Regions from separate parts of the Homo sapiens genome. Here region 1 is linked to region 2. A link means that fine-mapping ties the variant in region 2 to the expression of a gene that starts in the linked region. Tissue or cell type: monocytes after LPS. Region 2 holds a variant in brackets; the other region holds the start of a gene. All regions are shown on one strand. Distances are from middle to middle.

The links. PIP is the estimated chance that this variant, and not a neighbour inherited with it, causes the effect.
Region 1: it holds the start of FCRLA, and the variant in region 2 is fine-mapped to the expression of FCRLA in monocytes after LPS (Fairfax 2014, PIP 0.91).

Annotation. Positions count from the first base shown.
Region 1 is chr1:161,703,914-161,712,013 of GRCh38, reverse strand. It overlaps FCRLA (Fc receptor like A), which reads right to left and starts at 4,785. Exons shown (of 5, transcript NM_032738.4): 1 at 4,671-4,785; 2 at 1,102-1,254; 3 at 540-806; 4 at 1-80. The coding sequence starts at 4,749. RefSeq lists enhancers at 4,310-4,489, 6,030-6,249.
Region 2 is chr1:161,729,621-161,737,726 of GRCh38, reverse strand. It overlaps the pseudogene RN7SL466P. Among named protein-coding and RNA genes, the nearest start is that of FCRLB, 12 kb to the right of the region's middle. RefSeq lists an enhancer at 1,517-1,626. The variant G/A (reference allele first, on the strand shown) is at 3,992.

The DNA of each region.
Region 1 (8,100 bases), 26 kb after region 2:
CTGACAACTCAGGGTCATGGGGCTTCCTGCTTGGGGTTCAGCTGAGGGTACAGCTCTGAGAATTGGCGCTGGAAACAGTTCTGGGAAAAAGATAGGCAGGAAAGAAGAGCTCAGCCATCTTATATACAGGTAGACACATGCAGGTGAAGAGACTTGGGGAGTCATACTTCCTTTCCCCTGTTTCCAGCAGGAATGGGCTCTCTTAGATTCCATTTGAATCTGTCAAGTTCTTTCTGTAAGTAGACAGGACTAGGAAAGATCCACAGATGGGCAAATCTGATAGTTGTCCAGACACCCAATCAGTGAGCACTAGGAAGCATAGATCTGGGTGGTAGGAACTATGCTGGACTCTGAGTGGGGCTGGATGACTTCAAAAGGCTGAGGTCTCGTCCCTTTCGAAGCCCAACTTGGGCATTTGCCAGCAACCTGCTCCATAGTCTGTTGATGATCTTGCTACCTCCAGGCTAAAGAAAGACAATTTGGGCTCCCTGTCTCTCCTTACCCTCCCCTGCCATGACAATGCTGCTTCTAGCTCTCACCTTGGACTGTGATAGCCACAACAGATGCTGTTTCTGGGATCCCAGGACCAGGGCTCTGGAAGATGCCACTGCAGTGGTAGTGCCCGCTGTCTGCCTTTTGTACCACGGTGATGGAGAATTCCCTGTTAGGCCCGGGGGGACCCAGAGCTGAGCCATCTCGGTAGAAGGTCACCTGAGTCAGTGGCCAGTCTTGCCAGGCCTGGCAGCGCAGAACCAGCAGGTCCCCTTCAAAAACTGGCTTGGCTGGACCTTGGAGGATCAGCCAGTCTATGGTCCAGAGAAAGAGCTGAGTGTCACCCAGGGCCTCCCTTGGGGGCCACCCCCAAGCATGCCTACTCCCCTAAACTTTCTCTGAGGGTCCAGGTAAACTCTCACCCCTGGTTGGGAGTATGGGACAACTTCCCTAGGGCCTAGGACTTAGAGCACCCTGGTTGCTGTGGGCTGAAGACTGGGAAGGAAGTACCTCATCCCATAGCCAATTTCCTAGGGACACTTTCCTGGGTGGGCTCTGAGGCTGAAAGAAGGGGTTTGGGGCACTGCTCAGGCCTTCCCAGGACCTCACCATAGGACACAATCAGGTGGAAGGGTTCACTGAAAGTGTAGGCCTTGACCTGGAAGCCAGCTTCCCTTGCATCAGTCAAGTCATCCTCCGTGTGGCAGCTGCTCTCCTCAGTGCAGACAGGTCCCTCACACTGCAGCGTCTCAAAACTGGCAGCTGAAGAGGGCATGGCCCAGGGAGAACCAGAAAATGATGATGCAACTTGGAGAAAGAGGACAGGGTTCCTCCATCTCCCAGGATAATCATCCTTTTTAGAATGAGACTAGTAAGACATCAAAACCTTTTTTTTTTTCGGAAAGACCCCTGAGAGTGTCTCAGGGGGATAGTTTTGACCTTGATTCACTGGCGTCCAGGTGCTCTCAGCAAATGCACTGTGGTTTGGAGAAGAGGGAGGGGAGAGAATGAAAGAATGGTGAAACTCACCGGCATGACATCCAGCTGCTGGTACGGGAAACCAGGAGCAAAGACAATGGTAACTCGAAGCAGGGAGGCATAGGACAGGAATGAAAGGGAGACATCAGATTCTAATGTTCACTGGGTGCCAGACCCTGCTAGCACTTGTGTGCAGTATCTAACTTCATCCTCACAAACTTTCCAGGTAGGTGACTTTATCCTCATTTTATAATCTTAAAGAAACACACTTAGAAAACCAAATTAACATACCCAAAGCTTAAAAAGAGACTAAGCAATGGATCGGGAAAGGCAGGTGTGTCTGAGTCCAAAATCAATGTTCTTTTTACTTCACTGTGCAAATATGGTCTACTTCAGTCCTCAGACCTTCCTCGGGGACTTTCTTTCATATTCTGATTTTCCCAAACTTCACTTGGCTCCTCAGCCTTGAATATGTTATCTAACAAAGAGCTTTCAGTACCCAGCAGTGTCTCTCCTCCTTTCTTCCTCCCCCTTGCAGGTCTTCACTTTTCAGCCATCTTTACTTTAATGTCCTCTGCCACTTGAATTTTCCCTGGCAGTGGCACAGAGCTTTCTCTGTCTTTTTTCCCCTCCTCCCAGTCCATATTAGTAACTGTGGAACAATTCTTTGCTCCAGATTGAAATTTAGAATTATCCATTTCTCACCACATCTCCTCAACCTATCTCTTACCTTCATGGTAGACCTAGGCAAGGGAAGTGACATTTCTCCCTTCTCTGGGACTGCTCTTTATCTCCCTAACTATTCTCCCCCTCCTCCAGCCTCATGGCCATTCACATGTGCATACTTCTTCACTCCATCTGACTGTCATTTCGTGCCCCACTTGCCTTTATTCTCTTCCACTCCCAATAGCCCAGCGTTCTTCTTTGATTTTGTCATGTCCCTTACCAAGACCCCTCCCTACTTCCTAATTCTCATCACATCAGTACCAGGTGTTTTCTTTCCATCCTTTCTCCGCTCCCTTCACTGTAATGCTACCTCTTTTCAGTTCCTCCACTGTCACTCATCTGTGCTCTGCCTCCTCTCCATTTTTTCTTTTTAAAAATAAAATCTTATCCAGGCGTGGTGGCTCATGCTTATAATCACAGCACTTTGGGAGGTTGAGGTGGGAGGATCCCTTGAGCCCAGGAGTTTGAGACCAGCCTGGGGAACATAGAGAGACCCTGTCTCAACAAATAATTTTTTAAAAAATTGGCCAGGCCTGGTGGCACTTGCCTGTGGTCCCAGCTACTTGGGAGGCTGAGATAGGACGATTGCTTAAGCCCAAGAGGTCAAGGTTGCAGTGAGCAGTGATTGCACCACTGCACTCCAGCCTGGGTGGCAGAGCGAGACCCTGTCTCAAAACATAAAATAAAATAAAATAAAATCTTGTTGGGTTACTGGGAACTCACTCAATAAACCTTAGGTGGTAGGTATTATTATTTTCATTCTACAAATGAGAAAACTGAACCAGAAATAGAAAAAGTGATTTTCTAAAGTGACATAGAGCTGGTAAATAGAAGAGGGGCTTGAAACAGGAGTATCTGATTCCAAGTCTGCAGTTCTTATCACAAGACAAAAACAAAAAAACATTGTCACTACCCACAAATAGCTCTCAATTTAGTGGAAGACACAGGTAGATGAAAATATTATTTCAGCATAAGTAGGAAAATATTATAATAAGAAAAATGTATCGCAAGCAGCCATTGGAGCAGAAAGAAGCATTCAAGAAAAGCTACCTGGAAAAGATACCATTTAAGCTGAGTCTTTAGGGGTACCTACACATTTGCAAGGAGAAGGAGAGTAGGGTGCCATGGAAAGAACTCATTTCAGGTAGAGATAGTGGTATAAGCAAAGCCTTAGAGACAGGCAAGAGTCTGGTGTGTGAGTATGTAAATATGAACTGATTGAGATTTATTAGAGCATAAGTTACAAGGCTGAGAGGGTAAAAGTAGAGGCTGCTTGGCCTTTTGTGCCATGATAAAGAATTTGGGCTGGTAAACTTGAGTTTTAGAAATTACTCTGTCTGCAGGGTACAGAATTCATTTCAAGAACACAAGGTTTGGACGAGGAGATTAGTTAGGAATTTACTGGAATAGCCCAAGTCATAGAGGATGAGGGCTTGTCCTAAGACATTAGTGATGATCCAGGCAAGGGACTGCTTCTATGAACAATTTAGAAGGTAAAATTGGCCAAACCTAATGATTGATCAGATTTAGAGAATGAAAAAGAAGGAAGAGTCTGGGTTGTTTCTGAGGTTTATGGCCTTGTAAGGGTAGATGCTGGTGTCATTAGCTGAGATCAGAAAGTGGAAAATGAATTAGATGAGGCAGGGGCCAAAAGGACAGATAAGTTCAACTCTAGTCACATGGTGCAGAGACACTTGTGAGATATGTAGGTAGATATGTCTGGTATGAAGCTTGATATTTGAATGTGAAGCTCAAAAGCATGGTTAGGGTTGGGGATATGATTTGGGACTCTTAAATACAGAGTTATAGTGGCAAAAATTAAACAGACAAATAAGCTCATGAAGGAGATTGTGTAAAGAAAGAGGAGTACAGAGGCAAGGCTATAACTATAGAGAACACTAGTGTTTAAGGGGAAGAGAAGAGAAGCTATTAAGGGATCAAGAGAAGTCCATGTAGTACAAGGAGAAAATGGTGCCATGGAAGCCAGGGTAGTAGAGAATGCAAGAAGGAGTAAGTGATCAACAGAGCCCAGTGCAGCAGAGAAGTCCAGCAGGATATGAACTGAAAAGCATGCCATAACCCAGTCAATATAGAGATCGTTGTGCCCTAGACAAAACCAATTCCAGTGGAAGCCAGGCTGCAAGCATTGAGGAGCGTGTGAGAAGTGAGGAAGTGGAGATAGCAAGTGCAAACTATTCTTTTAAGAAAACTTGTCTCACAAGTGAAAGAAAAGAGTTGAGATTAGAGCTAGAGAGGATATCATGATCAGAGGGGACTTTCAGGATGGAAGATTTTTATATTCAGAAAGTAATTCAATCCTGTACACCAAACTTTCTTATACCTACCCTTCTTATTCCACCTGAATACTGCTTCTTTGGAGGGCCAGAATTAGTCCATGTTTCTTTCCTTCTGGTCCTTTCTCCCAAGGTAAGCAAAGCTCCATTCCCACACCAATATTCAAATATTTTACTTACCCAGTAGCATCTGGGCCACCCAGAGCACACCAAGGGAAAGGTAGAGGGCCCAGGCCATGAGGACACAGCCCAGCTTCATGGTGACTGTGTTTAGGTCTCCTGCAACCCCAACACTGATTTTCTTCAACATGAAACCTCTCAGATTAGAAAAGAGGAAGTAAATTTAACTGTCTCATCTCCTTGCATCTGGGGTCTGTTTTCATTTTCTAGTTTGTAATTGGCTTTCATCATTCAGATTTGGCCAACACGCTTTCAGCATCATCTGCACCCTTAGGGCTATGACAAAATGGTAGCACTCTCAGCTGTTCAAGAATTTACTCACAGAGCTCAGGGGCCTGTCAAAGCATGTCATTGTCTGATAGCCAGCTGGCCTTCATGTACACTCTGGGAAAGGTCAGTGCAACAACCACCCTTTTCACTGGTGATGCAACTGGGGACAGAAGGTGGGATGTTGTTTGAAGGCCAATAGAAAATCACTGGAGAATCAATGATGAGAATTCAAATGTCCTGCCCATTCCAACACTTATATGTTTCTAGTGACTAGAAGGTAGCGAGACAGAGAAGGAAGATTAGTCACGGCACCAAGTTAGATATCAGATTAGTCTCTAGTAGGCTCTGACTATCCAAAGCCCACACAAATTTGCATGCAAATTTCTCTAGACTCGTGTCAGCTCTCTATTTCTGGAGCATGACTAAGTCTGCTCAGTCTCAGTGGAAATATGAGTACAAGGCAGGGAGAATCCACTGGGAAAGAGTAGAGGAAAAAGAAAATCTATTCCCAGAGGATCCAGCAGTCAGCTCAGGGCTTAGGCTCATAGCCAAAGCTCAGGCCACTGATCCTGAGGAAATTAGAGATAGGAGGCATCCGATATCTTGAGAAACCTGAGGAGACTCAGGAATAGGAGCAATATAGAGGCTACAGCCTCTCCCTTCCGTTCCAGATGGCCTCCTGGGAACCATTGTCCCTGCCTCTGAATGTTTGCTATTTGTTTGAGGCCTACTTAATGGTAGGGCCCATGTGTCTTTTCACAGTGGCCACATTCCTCCCCTTTCTGTCATCATAACACCCACCAGGCCTCCAGTAGGTTATTTGGAGATGAAATGAGCCATCAGAAATGGGGTAAGGTAGGCCAGGCACTGTGGCTCATGCCTCTGTAATCCCAGCACTTTGGGAGGCCAGGGTGGGCGGATCACTGGACTGGAGGTCAGGAGTTCAAGACCAGCCTGGCCAGTATGGTGAAACCCCATCTCTACTGAAAAAAAAAAAAAAAAATTAGATGGGCATGGTGGTGCATGGCTGTAGTCCCAGTTACTTCAGAGGCTGAGGCATGAGTATCATTTGAACCCAGGAGGCAGAAGTTGCAGTGAGCCAAGATTGCACCACTGCACTCTAGTGTGGGTGACAGAGCGAGACTCCATCTCACAAAAAAAAAAAAAAAGAGAGAGAGAGAAATGGGGGAAGGTAGTTTGGTCCTCCTTGAAGGCAGAGAGAGGGACAGTATGACCCTTCAACTGTGCAAAAACCACAGGTCAGAGCAGACATATCAACCACACGGGCATAAGAGAGTGGATCTTTCTGAGTCTAAAATAAGCATTTAGAATAAAATTTCCATTATCGAGAGGCATACGCTTCTGTGCAGGTGGCCCCAGGGAGTCCAGGGGTGGTTGAATATGGGTGCTGGGGAAGGCAGTGAGGCAGTAAGCCTTGCAGCTGATGTGATGTGAAGCCTCAGAAGAGGAAGAAAAGCCTAGCTAGCCTTAATAATTTTTTTTTTTTTTTGAGATGGAGTCTCTGTTGCCCAGGCTTGAGTGCAGTAGCGCGATCTCGGCTCACTGCAACCTCTGCCTCCAGGGTTCAAGCCATTCTCCTGCCTCAGCCTCCCGAGTAGCTGAGACTACAGGAGCGTGCCATCACGCCCGGCTAATTTTTTGAATTTTTAGTAGAGATGGGGTTTCACCCTGTTAGCCAGGATGGTCTTGATCTTCTGACCTCGTGATCTGCCCACCTCGGCCTCCCAAAGTGCTGGATTACAGGTGTACGAATTAAACAAATAAAATGTGTTTAGATGCATCGCCACTCCTAAAACTACATAAAACATAGACCCTCAGGGTTAGGCAGAGGCTAAGGGGCTTCTAAACAAATCATGATATCTTTCTCTTCTTATGTCACCCTTTCTCCTTTACTGTCCTTACCATAGCATCTTACCTGGATAGAGACCCTCCCCTATACCATCTGCAGCAATCCTTGCAGGACCCCACTGTCAATATGGAAGGCAAGGGGCCTTCTGAAGATTTGGGGTGAAGCTATCAAGTTCTTTACACTGAAATTTCCATTAAGCTGCTGGGAAAATTTACTCGCTTGAAGCTTAATCAATGAACTATTTAGAATAGATGTGATTCACTGCGAGGAAAAAGCAACATTGGGTCTGCTGTTTGTTCATGGAGACTGAGATTCGGTTTATTGAGTAAGTTCCTCCATCAGGATCACCTCAGAATACTCAGGGGGAGATGGGACAAATCCCAGCTCTCATCCCATCCCAAGACCAATTAGGTGGTGGATGCCCTCCTTTGCCATTCCTGGCTTGTCACTAGTGGACTAATGCTTATCTCTTCTTTATTTTTAATTGAGTAGATAAAAATATTTATTAAAAATGTGAAGGTGTAAAAAATAATGCAGTGTATACTTTTGAAACCTTATATGGTTGAAGGAACAGACTAGTACTGTTATCCTTGAAGTACTGCATAGATCCCTGTCCGATTACACTGTCTTCCCTCCCCACCATCATCAACCACAATCTTTACCTTATATTTATCACTCTCTTTATTTTATGTAGTAATCATTTTGTATTTTTGAACTTTTAGTAAGTGGAATTGTACTGTATTTATCATTCTAAGGCTTTCTCTATTTTTTTTTTTTGAGATGGAGTCTCACTCTGTTGAGTGAGTGCAGTATGTTTGATCTCAGCTCACTGAAACCTCCACCTCCCGGGTTTAAGCGACTCTTCTGCCTCAGCCTCCCGAGTAGCTGAGTAGCTGGGACTACAGGCGTGTGCCACCACACCCGGCTAACTTTTGTATTTTTAGTAGAGACGGGGTTTCACCATATTGGCCAGGCTGGTCTCGAACTCCTGACCTCATGATCCACCTGCCTCGGCTTCCCAAAGTGCTGGGATTACAGGGGTGAGCCACCTTGCCCAGCCAACTTGCTTTCGTTTAACTCAACTGAAATACAACCTGATGTTCTGTGTAGCTATAGTTAACTAATTGTATTGCTGTGAAGTATTTCATCATGTGATCATGTCACAAATTATTCTATTGACAATGGACATGTGAGTTATTTTCAGGTTTTTGCTGTCAAAAACCATGCATCTATTCATGTACATAATTTGTTATTATAAGAGTTTCTCGAAGGTACATATATGAATGGAAT
Region 2 (8,106 bases):
GTGAAGCGGAGGCTGTACTACTGCAGCTGATGTTGCTTCTGGAAACCTGGTTGAGAAAGATTTTGGTTTTTCTTTACCAGCAATAGTACCTACCTAGTGTCCAGGATCTAGCTTTGTGTTGCTAGGGGCAGGGCCCTGAGCATCCATTCCTTGGACCATAGAAGACAGGTATGGTCTTGGCACCGTAGCAATAGCAGTGTCTCTTCTATCGTGACTGTTTTCTTAATCATAGCAATGGCTGTGTGACCCAAGGCTGGCAAATTTCTGATCTCAGAAGAGGCAGCAACTCCCTTGTTGAACTGATATTGGGAAACTTTGCTGAGAACACAAACTACAGTCTGTCTCTTCATCTCTCCCAACCATTTTGTAAGCTATTAAATACTGTGTAATAAATTCCTTCCTCCTTAATCCAGCTAGAGTTAATTCTGTTCTCTGAAATTGAATCCTGATCAATATAATAATATACTTAAAAAGCTCTTTTTTAAAATAAAAGGCCTGGAAGAGTGCACATCAAATTGTTAAATAGTGGTTACATCTATAACCCACTGAGGGAGTGGGTGGGAGGATGGCAAGAAAAATAGGCTTAACATTTTTTTAATACAGTATGAAGTTTTCAAATAGACTATATTCATAATAATGTTTGAAAAATTAAATAAAGTGTAACTTGTATGTTAAAAGCACAATTCATTACCTGATCAAAATGTAGCTCTTTTATCTTTCAAAATCAATTTAAAATGTATTCAGTGTGGGTAATCCTCCCTGGCTCACAGCACCCTGCTACTCAAAGTGTGGCCCAAGAACCTTCAACATTGGCATCAATTAGAAGCTTCTCAGAAATGCAGACTCTCAGGCCCCACCCCAGACCACTGAATCACAATCTGCATTTGCCGTGGATATTGGCAAACTTTAATGTACACATGAATCACCCAGCGCCCTGGTGATTCATGTGTACATTAAAGTTTGCAAATAGCCATGATTTTTCTGCTTCTTTAGGTAATGGAGAGTCTTATAATGACTTTAGGCTACAAGTATAGTTTCAATTTCTAAATCAGGATGCCCATTCTAGATGTTAATCAGACCTCCAGTCTTTATCCAAAGGTAAGTCTGTCTTCTTACTTATCCATTTAAGGTGTTGACTTGGGGAAGGGACTTGATTGGTGTTTCTCTCTCTCTCTCTCTCCCTCTCTCTCTCTCTCTCCACATCCCCTCCTCCTCTCATTAGCGTCTGTTTGCTTCTCACGTAGGCCAAAGTAGGAGAGCAGAGGGAAGAAAGGGAGAATAGGTAAGGGAACAGAAAGTTATTTGGCTGAGCTGCTTTCTACTCTCTGAATTTGACAGGTGGCTAAAGCTAACTTGTTCTCCCATGAGCATTTTTGTAGACTTTTTGGATGTTTATTTCTGGGAATTGTTTCCTTAGGGTGTTGTGCTCAAGGCAGATGCATCTCTCCTCCAGGTGTTCCAGTGCACCTCTTTCCTCTGCCCCTAGGAATATAGATGCAACTCCAGCTTTTTGGTGCCTTTATCTGCCCCTCCTGGTGACCCTATAGTACAGGAACCAAGGCAACCCCATACTAGGTCTCTTTCTTCTTAATTTTATTGTTATTGTTTCTTTCTTTTTATAAAGACACAGTGTCTTTCTGTGTTGGCCAGGTTGGAGTGCAGTGGGTATTCTCAGGTGCTATCTCACTATTAGTCAGCACAGAGTTTTGACCTGCTCCATTTCTCACCCGGGCCATTTACCTCTCCTTAGGCAATCTAGAGATCCCCTGCTCCCAGGAGATCACCATATTGATGCCGAACTTAGTATGAATACCCAATGGGCATAGTGCACTAGAGCCCAGAACTCCTGGGTTCAAGCGATCCTCCTACTGCAGCCCCCTGAGGAGCTGGGACTACTGGCATGCACCACTGTGCCCAGCAAGCACTCTGTTTTTCATAGGCCACAGAAATATATATAGATGTGGCTCCTGGATCTTTTGTAGGGCTGGCTAATCCTAAAATAGGCTCTTCTATCCTACCACCATAGCTCACTTTAACTTTCTCAAGCCTAAGTCAGGCCCAGTTCCCTGTATCTCCCTACTGCAGAGAATACATTTCAGACCTACCTGGGTGATTCCATGGGTATCTTTCTCATTAGGCTTGAGAATGAGGAGGTAAGCTTCCCATGCCTCCCCACTATGAAGGGGAAATATGGCAAATAAATCATTTCACAGATCCTCTCTCCTCTCCATATCCTGGCCCCTTTTTATCCCTTGACATGATTTCAGAGTCCAAAAGTCAAGGAACAGATAGATCCTCAACCATTTCCTTTGTAAATTCTTCATATGATGATCCAGCTTCAGAATTTCATGTCCACTGTATCTTGAAATATCATTTCTGACATCCTGTCACAAGTACAATTGTTTAATTGTACAAAATAAAAATAAAACCCTGCCTTCCTGCCGTATTCTCCCTGGACACATCCATCTGAGGAACATGGTAAGTAAGTCATGGGTCCCAAATTTTAAAACTGGAGATATGCTATTTAAAAAACGAGTGGTTTGGGGGGACATGGATGAAGTTAGAAACCATCATTCCCGGCAAACTAACACAAGAACAGAAAACCAAACACCGCATGTTCTCACTCATAAGTGGGAGTTGAACAATGAGAACACATGGACACAGGGAGGGGAACATCACACACTGGGGCCTGTTGGGGGCTAGGGAGGTAGGGAAGGGATAGCATTAGGAGAAATACGTAATGCAGATGACGGGTTGATGGGTGCAGTAAACCACCATGGCACATGTATACCTATGTAACAAACCTGCACGTTCTGCACATGTACCCCAGAACTTAAAATATAATAAAAATAAAACAAAATAAAAATAGGTTAACAGCAAAAATAAAAATAAAAATAAAAAGGCCAGGATGGAGAAGGAATTCCAAATTTGAAAAAGTTAAAAACCCTGAGGAAAAAAAAATTCGAATGAAATAGTATACCTTTAAGAAAACATAGGCATGAGCTAAGCAGTGTCTTTAGTTATCTGAAGGCCTGTCAAGAGGGCCAGAAATTAGATTTGTTCTGTGTAACACAAGGGGGTACAGTGAGTAGAAGTTACAACAAAATCATTTTGCTCATTATAGTAAGGAAGAACTTTTTAATTTCTAGAGCTGTCCAAAGATAAGAGTGGGCTTTCCTTGGGAAGTAATGGAAGGCCACATTCTCACAAAAAGTCAAGCACAGCTGCGTGGCCACATGGCAGGAAAAATTTAGAAGCATCTCTTTTTTTTTTTTTGAGACGGAGTTTCATTCTTGTTGCCCAGGCTGGAGTGCAATGGGGAGATCTCGCTTCACTGCAACCTCCGCCTCCCAGGTTCAAGCAATTCTCCTGCCTCAGCCTCCCAAGTAGCTGGGATTACAGGTGCGTGCCACCATGCCCCACTAATTTTGTATTTTTGGTAGAGACTGGTTTTCACCATGTTGGTCAGGCTGGTCTCAAACTCCTGACTTCAGGTGATCTGCCCACCTCAGCCTCCCAAAGTGTTGGGATTACAGGCATAAGCCACCATGCCCAGCCTGAAGCATCTCAATAAATGGTTTCTTGGTTGAACTAAACAGTCTTTACTTTCCCCTTCAGATTTTTTGAGGACCTCCAATTCATCCTGAAAGATGTCCACCTTTAGTCTCTGGCCACATGTAGGACTATATGTAACTTTTTTTCCTAGACATTTTGAAGTTTGTTTGCCTAGAGCTCAGGATTTTTTATTTTATTTTATATATTCTAAGACTTTTTTAAACAATGTTTTAACATCTCTGAAATCATGATGTATCTAATAATTGCTGTCTTGTTATAGTTTTCATTGCTTATATGAACATTAAAATACCAGCATCAAAATTTACAAAATGGTGTAAGCAGCTTGGAGAAAATTTCTAGAGACAACAGTGAAGCAACTGTTAGTTGTGGGAAAAATGGGGTGGGTGGTGAATCAGACTTGTGTAGCAACATTCCT[G/A]GAGCAGAAGTCAAAAGCAAGTTAGCTCCAGATAATTATAAAACCAGCTTAAAAGTCTGGCAACAACGACTGTTACTTTTTTATGACTTCCTTTAAGAAATGCAGCACTTCCCATGATTTTCATAGAAAAGATGTCACAGGAGTGAGGAAACATGGGCACTGATAAATATGAGTTGGAAAGTGATTCAGAAAAGTCAGAATCTGAATGTAAAAACATTTTAGAAGTATCTTACCCAATTTATTTCACATATGTTTCCCTGTTTATTCATTATTTATGATTTTATAAGTCTATTTTAATTAAGTCTAAAAGACATTGTGTAGTTATTTAGCCATGTTTTCCCTTTTCTTATGCTTTCTTTAATGGTGTATCCTATAATTAATATCATTTTAGATTCAATGAATTACAGTCATAATAACAGTTTACTGCTTCTTATGTATTAGATGTACTACTTACAAATCTCATTTAATCCTTCTAGCAATTCTATAGGCATGTACTATTATCATTCCGTTTTACAAAAGAGGAAACAGAATTTCAGAGACAATGTATCTTGCCCAAAGCTACACAGCTGTTAAGTAGTAAAAGCAACATTCGAACCCAAGTCTATTGACTCCTGAGCCAAGACTCTTAACTTTATACAACTCTGCCATCTCTAGGTCCAAAGCTAATTAGCTTGGCTATTACAACTTAACATGATGCACTAGGGTATATTTACTGTTAAGAGATGAGAGAATGATCATCTCCCACACTGCAGTGAGACTGACGCCTTTGAACTGAAAAAGACAGTAGTGTGTTGTACCAATTTTTTAGTCTCAGCTCTATCAGGCGTGTACATTTATATGAGGATTCTCATTATAAGTAGAATGTCAAACATTGAAACCAATTATCTTTGCAGGTAGAGTGACTAGGGAACAAACTAAACCAATATGGGCTAACTATAGTACATGCTGAAAATCTCGCGAAGGACTACAATGATCTAGCTTGGAATAAGAGCTCTAATGGACAGAAAACGGGTATTTAATAAGGAATTACAGTCAGAAGTGCAGTTCTTTGAGCTAACTACAGAACAGCTAGCAAGGAATTCAGGAGTTGGATGGGTTAGCATTACAAATAAGTGCACTGACCCTTGGGGGACTGTACCACTGGACTGCTGTATGGCACAGGATAGTAAATCTATCGGGATCTGACTAGGGACACTCAACACTGGATAGTCAAAAGGTTTTCGTGGGTTTAATTAAAAAATAAAAGTACAATGATATGCTCTCTTGACCAAGGTAAGAGAAACAAGCTTTCACCTTCATAATTAGTAGAAGCACAAATTGGTACATTCTCTTTGAGAAATAATTTGCAACATCTATTAAAATTCTAAAAAGACACATATCCTTCGATGCAACAATTCTACTTCTAGGAGTTTATCCTACAGACATATTCAGATATGTGCGTAAAGATACAGATGTAAAGATATTCATTGCAACATAATTTAAAACAGCACAAGTTTAGAAACAAATAGCTTATCGGTGGGGACTGGCAGGAAGTTGATTCCTGGACCCCCACACTGGGCTTAGTATCTCTCCTCTGTGCTTCTTATCATCAACTGTTTTAAAACCTCTAATGATGAAAGGATCTGTTTGTTTGTCTCTCCCTGTGAGGTTACTATTATTTCCCTCACTTTGCAAATGAGGAATCTTGGGCTCAGAAGGCCTGTGCAGCCCTTCTACAACAGTTGAAGCAAAAATATATACAAAAATAAAGTCATGAAAGGTGGTGGTGTGTTGGGGAAAGAGCAGGTGGTCATTGTGGCCATAATATATGATGAATGGGCTCAATATACTGTGATGGGAAGTTTGGACTTTAACCTAGAGAATTTAATTCAATCTCTTAGGAAAAAAGCCATGAGTGTGAAACCTATAAACCAAAAAGCATCTGAGACGGGTCTCAATCAGTTCATAGGTTTATTTTGCCAAGGTTAAGTACCATAGCCCGTGATACAGCCTCAGGGATTCCTCAGAACATGTGCCTAATTTGGTTGGGCTACGCTTGGTGTTATACATTTTAGGGAGACAGAAGTTACAAACAAAGACATAAATCAATACATGTAAGGTATACATTGGCTTGGCCTGGAAAGGCAGGACATCTCAAAGTCGGGTTGAGGGGGCGACTTCTAGGTAATAGGTGGATTCAAAGATTTTCTGACTGGCAATTCGTTGAAAGAGATAAGCTATGCCTGAAGAATTGAAGTCAGCTTGAGTTAAGGGAAGGGAGCGGTTCTGGAAGCCAAGGTTATTCTCATGTAGGTGAAACCTCCAGACTTCAGAGAGAATAGATAGTGAATATCTCTTATCTGACCTTAAAAGATGTCAGACTCTTAGTTACATCTCTTCTGGATCAGGAAAAGACCTGGAGAGGGAAGAGGATTCTCTACGGAATGTAAATTTCCCCCACAAGAGACAACGTTGCAGGGCCATTTCAAAATATGTCAAAGAAATATAGTTTGGGGTAAAATACTTTGATTTTCAGAGTCAGGTTGGAGTTGGTATCTTATTGCTACATAGTCAGTTCTGTCAGTCTTAGGATCTCTATTTTAATGTTATGCTGGTCAGTTGTGCTAAACTCCAAAAGGGGGAGGGTATAATTAGGCATGTCCAATCCCCCACTTCCCTTCGTGGACTAAACTGGTTTTTCAGGTTTCTTTGAAATCTTCTTGGTTGTGAGGGGGGTCCATTCAGTCTATTGGGGGGGCTTAGAATTTTAATTTTGGTTTACAAACCCAAAGAGATCCCCCTTTCATAGTGTAAGGTCAAGTAAAAACTGAGACTCAAGGAGAACAGTTTAAAGAGTAAGGCTGAAATCCAAAGGGAATGCGACAGAATTTTTTCTGCTCTCTGATAGCGGACATTGGGGTTCCTTGTCTGGCATCTGCTATGGACAGCCGCAGGATTAGGGTTTGCAGCCTAAGTCTGAGACACCAAACTGATCAGAGTATCAGAGAGAAGCAGATTCCTCCCTAGGTTTCTCCAGCATTTTTCTGCCATCCCTGCTGTTTGGGAATGAGCTCTGAGAGTCCCCTTGGACAACCTGGGCTAGCTAGCCTTCTGGTTTCCCTAAATGCATGTAGGAACCTCAAACAAAAGGGATGAAGATGAAGCTGATATTTCCTTAATGCAGGTCTTCCTGGGAGATCAATAACAGATATCTTAGAAGATCATCTTGATCCTGCCCTCCTCTTAAAAGCTGGGGTACACGAAGAAGACAGTGGAGTCTACAGGCCATATGAGTCAATTCCTCTCCCCTACACCAGAAAGTTGAGTCATGAATGATTTTCACTCTCACCAAAAAGTCCTTGTTCTTCCCCATCCCCCCGCATCCTAGTTCTAAATGGAAGTAGATGGCAAAACAAGAACAAGGATGTTGATGTTGCCAAAAAGGTGTGAATGAAAGAGATACTGCTGCCCTAGCTCTCCTTTGAGTAACTATTTCTCTTTTTTGTACTCTTAAAAAATGATCAACTGATTTTTTAAATGACCTGAGATTCTTTGATTACTAAGCCTCTTGCCACTAATGTTAGTCACTTCCTGTCTATATCAAGATGGCAGAAACCGGCCGGGCGCGGTGGCCCAAGCCTGTAATCCCTGCACTTTGGGAGGCTGAGGCAGGTGGATCACCTGAGGTCAGGAGTTCAAGACCAGCCTGGCCAACACGGTGAAACCCCGTCTCTACAAAAATACAAAAATTAGCCTGGCATGATGGCAGGTGCCTGTAATCCCAGCTACTGGGGAGGCTGAGGTGGAAGAATCACTTGAACCTGGGAGGCGGAGGTTGCAATGAGCTGAGATTGCTCCAGCCTGGGTGACAGAGTGAGATGTGAGACTCCGTCTCAAAAAAAAAAAAAAAAAAAAAAAGCAGAAATCTCAGGGAAACAAAATCAGAAGGGGAAAAGAGCCTGGGCACTGAAATAGAGTGCAGTTAGCTAGGAAAGGTGGCCTTGGAAGAGAGTTCTGAGAAGTGAGATGAGCCTGCATCAGAAAGCTGGAAATCAGAGCCACAAAGGCCCTTGTAGACCAAGACCCCAGAACTGAATTATAGGCACCTGGACATATCTCTCAGAGTTAAGCAAAGA